Linked DNA regions of Homo sapiens. The protein of the gene in region 1 purifies or fractionates together with the protein of each later gene. This does not show direct contact. Each region holds a gene or a part of one and is shown on either strand. Other genes may lie near its edges.

Region 1 (2,441 bases):
ATGTTCCAGGTATATTCACTCTAACTTTTTACATCTTTGCCAGCTACTGAGTGCTACAATAATCATGAACACTTGCAGAGATCACTCAAGAATGTGACAAGACTGAATAAAGGTTAAATTAACCATTCTATCCTCCATTTTACTAAATGCTTAATAAAGAAGATGACTGTGGTAGGGGGCGGGAAGTAAGGCTGAATAGGCCTGGTGGGGCCCCAAAAGCAGGAAGCCATGATCAATTCTGGAGTAGGACAGTTATGTAAGAGTAATCCAGATTTGGTTTTCTTTTCTTCTTCTTCTTCTTCTTATTTTTTTTGACACAAGGTCTCAAACTTCTGGGCTCAAGAGATCCTCCTGCCTTGACCTCCTCAGTAGCTGGGATGTGCCACTGCACCCAGCTCAGGCTTGGTTTTAAAATGATAAAACTTGCAACTTACTTTTTGTTTTAAGAAGATAATTGCCTTTGGTTATTTTATGAGTCAAGCTAGGAAAAATACTCATTACTTATAGTCATCCAAAGTAGCATTTCTCAGCAGATCCTTTTACTCGCCATCCCTGGCCCTATCGTGACTTCTGCTTCCAAAAACCAAATTCACTCTTAGCTGAAAAAGACTCTGAGGATACTGAAAAGAATGAGTCATAGACTCTCTGAAGGAAATTCAAAAAAGGAGTTCCAAAAATATTTTGAGAAATGACAGTGTTATGGAGAAGAGTATGCAGGCTTCCATGATGATGACTTTGAAGGTGAATGCCACTCACTTCGGTGCATAAGAAGTTCTGGTATGTATATTAATAATCAGCCCTGTTATTTTGTAGTCATATGTCATGAAAGAACCTAGCTTTTAATATTATGCCATAAAACATACATTTATATATCATATGTAGTATTATACACTTTCTTCATTGATTTTTAATCCAAGTAGTGATCTTGCATCTGTTACATGCTCAGTGCTGTTCAAATCACTGTGGAGATACAGAATAAGACAAACAGGGAAACTCCAAACTTTGAACTGTACACATCGGTAATGGCCACATTGAAAGGCCAATGTATACCACACAACCACATTTCCCAAGAAAGACATGCCCAACTATGTCTATGTAGGATCCAGTTCCACTTCTGTGTTCTTCAACATCATCTCTATTTCAGCCCATGTTAATCTTTCCCATTTCTAAATTTCTATGTAACACTCATAATTTAAACAACACAATTTAGTATTTGATTCTAAATCATGTACTATTTTATAATTGATTTTTATGCATGAGTTTCATGTCCCTAGATATTCCAAAAAATACTTAGACTTTAGAGACTGTACATACACCAAGAAACTATCCTACTATACTGCAAATAACATGACGTAAACGTAGATAGATAAATATGAATAAGAATATATGACCCAAAGGAGTGGGTTACTCTAAGATCAGAAGAACTAACATATTATATAAAGCAAACAATTATCATTACTTTAATTCTGAATTAAGATATTCCTGTAAATATCTTGTACTACTTTTACTGGGGCAAACTGCCAATAGGTTTATAAATATTGTATTGCAGTAATAGACTGAACTCAGAAAAAGAAGCTACTTAGAAGAAAAATTTTCTTCCTTTAACAGATTTTTATATTATCAATGCGTAAAATTTGTGAAAAACAGGTCTGTGATATTAGAGAAACATTATCTAACATTATTAAGGAATTAGGTGTTCATGTAAGTAAATTAATGAAGTACCTAAATCTTAGTTCTTTAAGTGATAAAACTTTGTCTCAATATCACATACACACACATATACACACACACACACACACACATGTGCACACACACATGTATTTACATATGCTCTTTTTTGGTTCTATGTGACTTTTAGGATTTTTTTCTAATTTTGTGAAAAATGATGTTGGTATTTTGATAGGAAATGCACTGAATCTGTAGACTGCTTTGGGCAGTAAGGTCTTTTTCATAATATTGATTCTTCCAATCCATGAGCATGGGATGTATTTCCATTTGTGTCATGCATGATTTCTTTCAACAGTGTTTTGTAGTTCTCCCTGTAGGGATCTTTTACCTTCTTGGCTAAGTATATTCCTAGGTAATTTATTGCTATTACTATTATTATTATTAATTATTTTACAGCTATTGTAAAAGGGGTTGAGTTCTTGATTTGATTCTCAGCTTGGTCACTGTTGGTATATAATAGTGCTACTGATTTGTACCACTGATTTTGTAACCTAAGACTTTACTGATATGGTTTGGCTGTGTCCCCACCCAAATCTCATCATGAATTGTAATCCTCATAATCCCCATGTGTCTAGGGAGACACCTGGTGGGAGGTGATTGGATCATGGGGGCAGTTTCCCTCCATGCTGTTCTAGTGATAGTGAGTGAGTTCTCACAATATCTGATGGTTTTATAAGGGGCCCTTCCTTCTTCAATCTCACTCTGCTCTCCCC
Region 2 (3,663 bases), on another chromosome or scaffold:
CGGTAGACAGGAGAAATTTAAAAAGAAGGGCAACAAAAGGCTTTGCTGTGCTGCTTCTCTGCCTGGGGCAAACTTCTGACCTGTAAGAAGCTACAGAAAGGAAAAACAGTTGATTATAAACATAACAAAATTGAAGACTTGTATGATCTGTGCATTAATAATGAATGGGAGCATAATATTGATCCCTTATGATACAAGGCACTTGCTGCTCACCTGATAGTGTTGTCAGATGAGCCACTCACTACCAGCCTGTCCCTGTACTGCAAACAGGCAATGCCTCGTTTGTGTCCATTTAAGGTCCTTACAAATTCACAAGTACTTGTGTTCCATACCTGAAAAAGAAAATGGCATTGAGCAGTTGATTTGGTGCTTTTATTGGTAAAATCTATGGCAAATGGAGTCTTAGAGAAGCAGAAAACAGGACTGAACCATTAGAGGGAAGTCTTCTCAAACAAATAAAACAAAGGACAATTTAAATTCATGGTAACAGAGGCTAATTTGCAGTTGGCTGTTACCACATGAGAATTCCTCAGATTGATTTACTCTTCTAGGGTTAGTCTCTTCTCACACTCACCACTATTTATAGGAATAAAATATCTAGGATAAATTGTCACACAACGTCTCACTTATTACACCTTTTCACTTGTAGACTAGTCTCTGAATTAAATATTACATTTTTCTGTAGCAACGTTTAAATATGAAATTGCCCTTGATCAAATTTTCATATGAATTCCCCCATTCTAAGTTGGAAACTTACTGAAAAATGCCTTATTACCTTTATAGTTCTATCCCCAGATGCAGAAACAATGTACTTGTCATCAAAGTCTACAACATTGACAGCAGCTCGGTGTCCGACCAGCACCCTCCGGAGGGTAATGTCAGTTGGGGAGGCCATATCCCATACAGCAATGGAACGATCTTTGGAGCAGGTCACCATCATGCCATTATTGAAACGCAAGTGCAGAACTGCTTCACAATGGTGAATCAACGTGTTTAGCATTTCACCTGTATTTACATCCCACACTCTGGAAGTGATAGATGAGATTTAGATGGTACTCAAGCTACAATCTGTTACCTATATTTGACCATCATGCGCCCTTCCACCCCTTATATTTAGAGAGAGGGCCAGACTGGGAGAGTGGGAGAAGGAAGGGGATGGGATGCTGCCAGTGTGTCCTTAAGACATACTGCTTGAAATATGGGCAAGTTGTGGAGGGCAAGGATGAAGTGGCAGCCACTGTCACCTAATAATTTGGCCCAGACTTGAAGACTGTAAAACTTCTCACATTCAATTTGATACCATTAGTAAGATACATTTTAAATGAGGAATCTGATTAATAACAATAGCATTAGTGCCCATTCCAATGATAGCCCTCAGGAGCCAGAAATGAAATAGGCCAAGATGCTTCTGTCACATACTTAGTAATGTGAATTTGAGTTTGATTACCCTGGATCTCAGGTTTTATCATAAAGGTCAAAGGCCAAGATAACCATGACTCTAATTCTAAGCCCCCATTTCTGTGTTCTGAAGTGGGTAGGGGTTTAAAATAGACCCCCCATTGTAAATATGGGCTTCACAGCAGAGTGTGGGGCCCTTGGATAGCTTGAGAATTTTGTGTGATTATATATTTTGATTATTCTATTTTTGTGTATTTACTTAAGGTTTTATAACATGTTATTTCCTTTTTTCCAGTTTAGCCCCCTTTTATAGAATATCATTTTTTCTTTATCTTATAAATGATGTTAGCACCTGCAGTGTTTTAGATTCTGTGGGGCACTCACTCCACAAGCACCAATAAATGTTAAATGTCAGTAACTACAAGGGCCAAGTTTGCTATGCCTTGCTATGCCTTTAAGTCAAAAGACAAAAAACAGGAACCGTCTTTTCTATTCACAGAGGATAACTTGGAATGGTAAACATTTAACTTCAGAGTATCTAACAATGCACTTAACCGCTTTTTTCCTAGGTCTATTTTTTTTTTAAAGTTACTTTTGATGCATTATGTTTGCTAAATCCTTTAGCTTACGGCAAAATTCCTAACAGAGGTTCCCAGCAGTGCTGCTGGTACCCAGAACTCAAGCTATCCTGGACTCCAGCAGTATAATGGCTGTGTCATCAAATCACTAATGCCTCTGGAAATTGAGGGCCCCTACCTGAGTGAAGCTTGCAATTAAAAACTGCAGGGATGGCAGGGGAGGGGCTGGCAAAGAGAGCACAGCTCACCTGTACATGTTTCAAAGGAGATAATACAGACCTGCACTACAGTTACCACTACCTGAAAGGAAGGCTTCATTGCATTCATATCATTCCCCCGTGAGGTGGTTTTTGTAAGGAATGCAAAGTTTACCATAAGGATAAGAAAAGTTTCTGTAATAGATGATCCTCCAAATTAAAATAGAATGTGTAGTTTCTTCAATGTGCGAAAATGTAAACTTACCTCAAGCATTTCTAAATCAAGTTTTCTAGTTCTAGACTGACAGAAATGATGGGGACCTGGTGGTTTATTCTTCTTTAGTTTCAGAACTGTGCCGATATATACAAAATTACTATCTATGACAAAGAACAGAGCAGAGCTGATATTTCAGAGTTCAAAAAAGCATTTGAAATTTTCTACCTGACCGTGGAATCCGATGATCCTGTTATGATCACTCTCTCATCATACTGGAGACAGAGGACTGAACCTGTATGGCCTGTGAGAATTCGCTTGCATTCCAATGTGTTTTTATCCCAGATCTAGGATGGCAAATAAGATCCTTTTGATCAATGTGATGATGGGGTGCTGTGGAGACTTGTTGGTCCTATTACGTGTCTGATCCCCCAAAATAATCAAAGCCCAGAGTAGTGTGGAATGCATTTTCTATAGGTATAGCTAAGCGCGCGCGCGCGCACACGCGCACACACACACACACACACACACACACACACACACACACATATAGCTTCAGTACTAATGCAAACTTTTATCCTTTTCATTAAGGAACAGGGTAGTCTATAATTATGTGATGGCCAAAAGAGTAACAGCCCATTCAGTGCATTTCAAGAAGAGAATTTAACCCTAGGACTACCCGTTTGTATAGTGGGGAAGCTGATGTCTGTCCTTTAAGGAAATGATTTTGGCTTTGGGACTGGAAACAATCTAAAATCTTCACTTACTTTCTAGAAATAATGCTTAGAGTTTATGCTTTAGACTGCGCTATGAATGTGGTCACTCTTGCTCCCTCTGCTACCTTTCTACAACTGAATAGACCTCACCTTGATTGTGTTGTCTCGAAGGCCGCTTACTATTTTCTGATCATCATACTGTAAACAGTAAACTCCTTTGCTTGTTTCACTTCGGCAGTGAATTCTCTGTAAACTATGTCTTCCACATCTCCAATTAGATTCTATTGTCTGAGAAGAAGGAATGGGAAAGAGGCAGTGTTAGGAAACACCTAGAATCAAACTCTTTTTAGGCTTTAATGACAATCAATGGCTCAATGCTTTACTCTATGGGATATACACAACTTAGGGAAAACTAAAAAATGTCTTTAAAAGGCTACTATCTATATTTATAAAATATTCTTCCTTTTGCAAGGTAATTAAAGGTTGTTTCCTAGAACTTCCCTGCCTATAATTTGTTCAATTAAATAATAAATCTGGTGGAAAGAGACTACTCATCAAGA
Region 3 (3,663 bases), on another chromosome or scaffold:
CTCCAAAAGGGGGAAAAAAAGATATACATGGGGTCAACACCAAAGAGAAAAAAAACTAAAAGAATCATCAAGCTCGACAACTGATTATTTTTAAATTCTTTACATTGCATAAAATTTTAAATTACGGAGGGAAGGGAAAAAGTCATTTCTCACAATCTTGTCAAATCAACAAAACTATTATTTATATTACTATTATTAAATGACATGTCATTAAATATTCTATTCTATGCCTTGCCAAAATTAAACATTTCACTTTTGTTAAGCATTTGATGGGCAGCTTTCCATTCTTTCAAATTTTAAATAACATGTCCATAGGAAGACATTCCATAAAAAGATAACTAGATTGGAATTAGATTTAGATTTTTCTAATTCTAATAGAATTAGACTTGGAATTAGATTAGAATTTATCTAAGCAAATAGAATTAGATTTTTTTGTTGTTGAATTTCTCTTAAAAATGTTATACTGCTTTTGTAACAAAAAGGAGAAGAAATGATAACCAATATGTGGAGCATAAACAGAATAGAATGCAAAGAATACAGTGAAGCCGAAACACATTTCAAAAGTGTGCCCAATAAGTTATATCACATACTACCTAGGCCCCTTACAAACCAGTGAACATACATAACAGGTGCAAGAAAATCTAATTTATTTACATATACATATGCTACATATGTATATGTTATGCTATATATGTATATGTAATGGGGGGAAGTGTGATGGGAGGGTGGGCTTTGAGTCATGCATGGAGTGACAATCTGAAGAGCCTGATGGAAAAAATTAAGCAGGTGTAACTTTAAGTATATGCTTCCATCCAGGACCTCTATTAGTGAGGTTTGGCTCCAATAAAACAGCTTGTTTCTTGAGAGTTGCTTCAAACTGGTCCAGAAAGAAAAGACTGGTTGTTCTGAGAACCATGAAACAAGCACACCAGAGAGATTCAACATGCTGTGACTCTTAGTAAATTGATGAATGGTAACCTTACATTTAACACTGCAATTCAGAATAAGCTGGAAGGTCAAGGTGTGTATCAACTAAAACAATAAACCAATCTTGTCCAGTTTCCACTATATTATTTAGCCTATCTGCAGTAATCCTCCATCTGAGTTGTCCAGTCATGTTCTGTATAATGATGTTTTGGTCAACAATGATTCATACATATGATAGTGTTCCCATACAATAATAATGGCACTGAAAAATTCCTATTACCTAGTGAGGTCTTATCACAATACATTATTCACGTTTGTGGTGATGCTGGTGTAAATATACATACTGTACTCCAGTCATATAAAAGTATTGCACATATGATTTATGTACAATACAGAATACTTGGTAATAAATGACTATGTTACAGGTTTATGTATTTACTGTTATGCTTTTTATCATTTATTTTAGAGTGTACTCCTTCTACTTACGAAAACAAAAAGGACACTCTAAGTCAGACTCCAGCAGGTCCTTCAGGAGGTATTCCAGAAGACACTGTTAACATAGGAGATGTCAGCTCCATGAGTGTTACTGTCCCTGAAGACATTACAGTGAGACAGGATGTGGAGGTGGAAGGCAGTGATACTGATGATCCCGCCCCTGTGCAGGCCTAGACTAATGTGTGTGCTATGTCTTAGTCTTAAGAAAAGAAGTTTTTTTAAAAATCTTATTTAAAAAATAGAAAAAGGCAGCGAATAAGGACATTAAAAAGATATTTTTATTTATCTATACACTGTGCTTGTGCTTTATGTCAAAAATTTTAATTTTACAGTTTATGAAGTTACGGACAGCTAAGATTAAAGAAAAAAATTTTAATAAATGTAGCCTAAGTGTACAGTGTTTATAAAGTCTACAGTGTACAGTAATGTCCTAGGCCTTCCCATTCACTCACCACTCATTCACTGACCCACCCAAAACAACTTCCAGTTCTGCAAGATCCATTCACAGTAAGTGCCCTATGCAAGTATACAATTTTATCTCTTATGCCATATTTTTGCTGCGCCTTTTCTGTGTATAGTCACGGGTGTCCAATCTTCTGGCTTCCCTGGGCCTCACTGGAAGAAAAATTGTCTTGGGCCACACATAAAATACACTAACACTAACACTAACTAATGAGCTATTAAAAAAAAAAAATCACACAAAAAAAAACTCATAGTGTTTTAAGAAAGTTTACGAATTTGAGGTGGGCCGGATTCAAAGCCATCATGGGCCACGTGTGGGCCGCAGGCTGCAGGTTGAATAAGCTCAGTGTAGATTGTTTCGATACACAAATACTTACCATTGTAGTACAGCCACAGGCTATACAAGTCTGTAGCCTAGGAGCAAAAGGCAATACCATATATAGGTTTTTGTAAGTACACTCTATGATGTTTATACAACACATCACCTAACAACACATTTCTCAATATATATCCCCATCCTTAACAGATGCATGACTGTACTTCTGTATTCTTTTTTAACCATCAGAATTTCAGTTCTAATATCCCAAGTATTTTTACTGGGGGTTAATTAGAAAAAGAGGGAACTAGGAATTGGAAATACAAGAAAAAGTTTGCAAAGAAGCCTTGGGAAGAACAAAGGAGATAAAAGACATAAACGTGGGCCTACATTCTTACAACTAACAGGAGTGATGGATAAAAACGCACATAAAGGGAGTTAAAAGGCTAAAGTCAAGAGTACTGTCATAAACCGAGAGAGGCAAAATTAAGGTCTTAACCTATGAATTAAGAGACAGGATTTAAGTAACAAAGTTACCTGAAGTTTTTTTTTCCCACTCTAAACAGCCAATTTACTGTTTCTTTAGGATCATGACTCCCAGAAGTAAATAATTCCCAATCACAAAAACAAAAAATTATTAAACATTTAGATAATTTTTTAAAGCCTTAGTATGCATATCATCTGCAAAACCAAATCAAAGTATAAACAATCTGTTAAAACTGTGGGGTTGCCACATGTGGTGGCTCACGCCTATAATCCCAGGACTTTGGGAGGCCAAGGCAGGTGGATCACCTGAGGTCGGAGTTTAATGAGACCAGCCTGGCCAACATGGTGAAACCCCATCTCTACCAAAAAAATACAAAAATTAGCCAGGCATGGTGGCACGTGCCTGTACTCCCAGCTACTCAGGAGGCTGAGGTGGGAGAATCCCTTGAACCGGGGAGGCAGAGGTTGCAGTGAGCTGAAATTGTGCCATGCACTCCAGCCTGGGTGACAGAGCGAGACTCCATCTCAAAAAAAAAAAAAAAAAAAAAAAAAAAAGAGTATATTCCCCAAATCTCAAAGAAAAAAATTACAGCAACTTCATAATGTTCACACTTATACTGTCCTGCTCACTATATAGATTTTAGTTAAGTTCAGAAGTTTTTTAGAACAGAATAGTTTGTATGCATGATTTTTAAGTGCTTTGTAGTTTTATTGTAATTTTAGGCATAGTTCAATTCTATCTACTTCATACAACATACTCACAATACCACTTATCTGCTAGGTATCTACATTAACTTAACCATTGACACTAGTAGACTCCTAAGTCTGTTAACTCCCTATAACAAACCTTCTGTTTCTCCTGTTTCAACACACTGAGTCCCCTGGGGTCATCCTTCGTGTGATAACTGGCAGGTGTTGCAACTGTGTTGTTGATGCTGCTCATTGAAGTGACAGTCGGAGCATTCCCTGGTGGAGTT

Evidence for each region.
Region 2: the proteins of STK3 (region 1) and BTRC purify together in Homo sapiens (affinity purification with mass spectrometry; 4 studies listed by BioGRID and IntAct, with this or other methods). This does not show direct contact.
Region 3: the proteins of STK3 (region 1) and VAPA purify together in Homo sapiens (affinity purification with mass spectrometry; 5 studies listed by BioGRID and IntAct, with this or other methods). This does not show direct contact.

Annotation. Positions count from the first base shown.
Region 1 is NC_000008.11:98,456,334-98,458,774, forward strand, and holds part of STK3 (serine/threonine-protein kinase 3), read right to left. Parts: intron 961-2,441; coding exon of another isoform or gene 958-960; exon of another isoform or gene 1-957. UniProt on the Homo sapiens protein: Stress-activated, pro-apoptotic kinase which, following caspase-cleavage, enters the nucleus and induces chromatin condensation followed by internucleosomal DNA fragmentation.
Region 2 is NC_000010.11:101,532,023-101,535,685, reverse strand, and holds part of BTRC (F-box/WD repeat-containing protein 1A), read right to left. Parts: intron 3,392-3,663; coding exon 3,254-3,391; intron 2,735-3,253; coding exon 2,616-2,734; intron 1,026-2,615; coding exon 776-1,025; intron 333-775; coding exon 214-332; intron 1-213. UniProt on the Homo sapiens protein: Substrate recognition component of a SCF (SKP1-CUL1-F-box protein) E3 ubiquitin-protein ligase complex which mediates the ubiquitination and subsequent proteasomal degradation of target proteins. Recognizes and binds to phosphorylated target proteins.
Region 3 is NC_000018.10:9,944,929-9,948,591, reverse strand, and holds part of VAPA (vesicle-associated membrane protein-associated protein A), read right to left. Parts: coding exon of another isoform or gene 3,534-3,663; intron 1-3,533. UniProt on the Homo sapiens protein: Endoplasmic reticulum (ER)-anchored protein that mediates the formation of contact sites between the ER and endosomes via interaction with FFAT motif-containing proteins such as STARD3 or WDR44.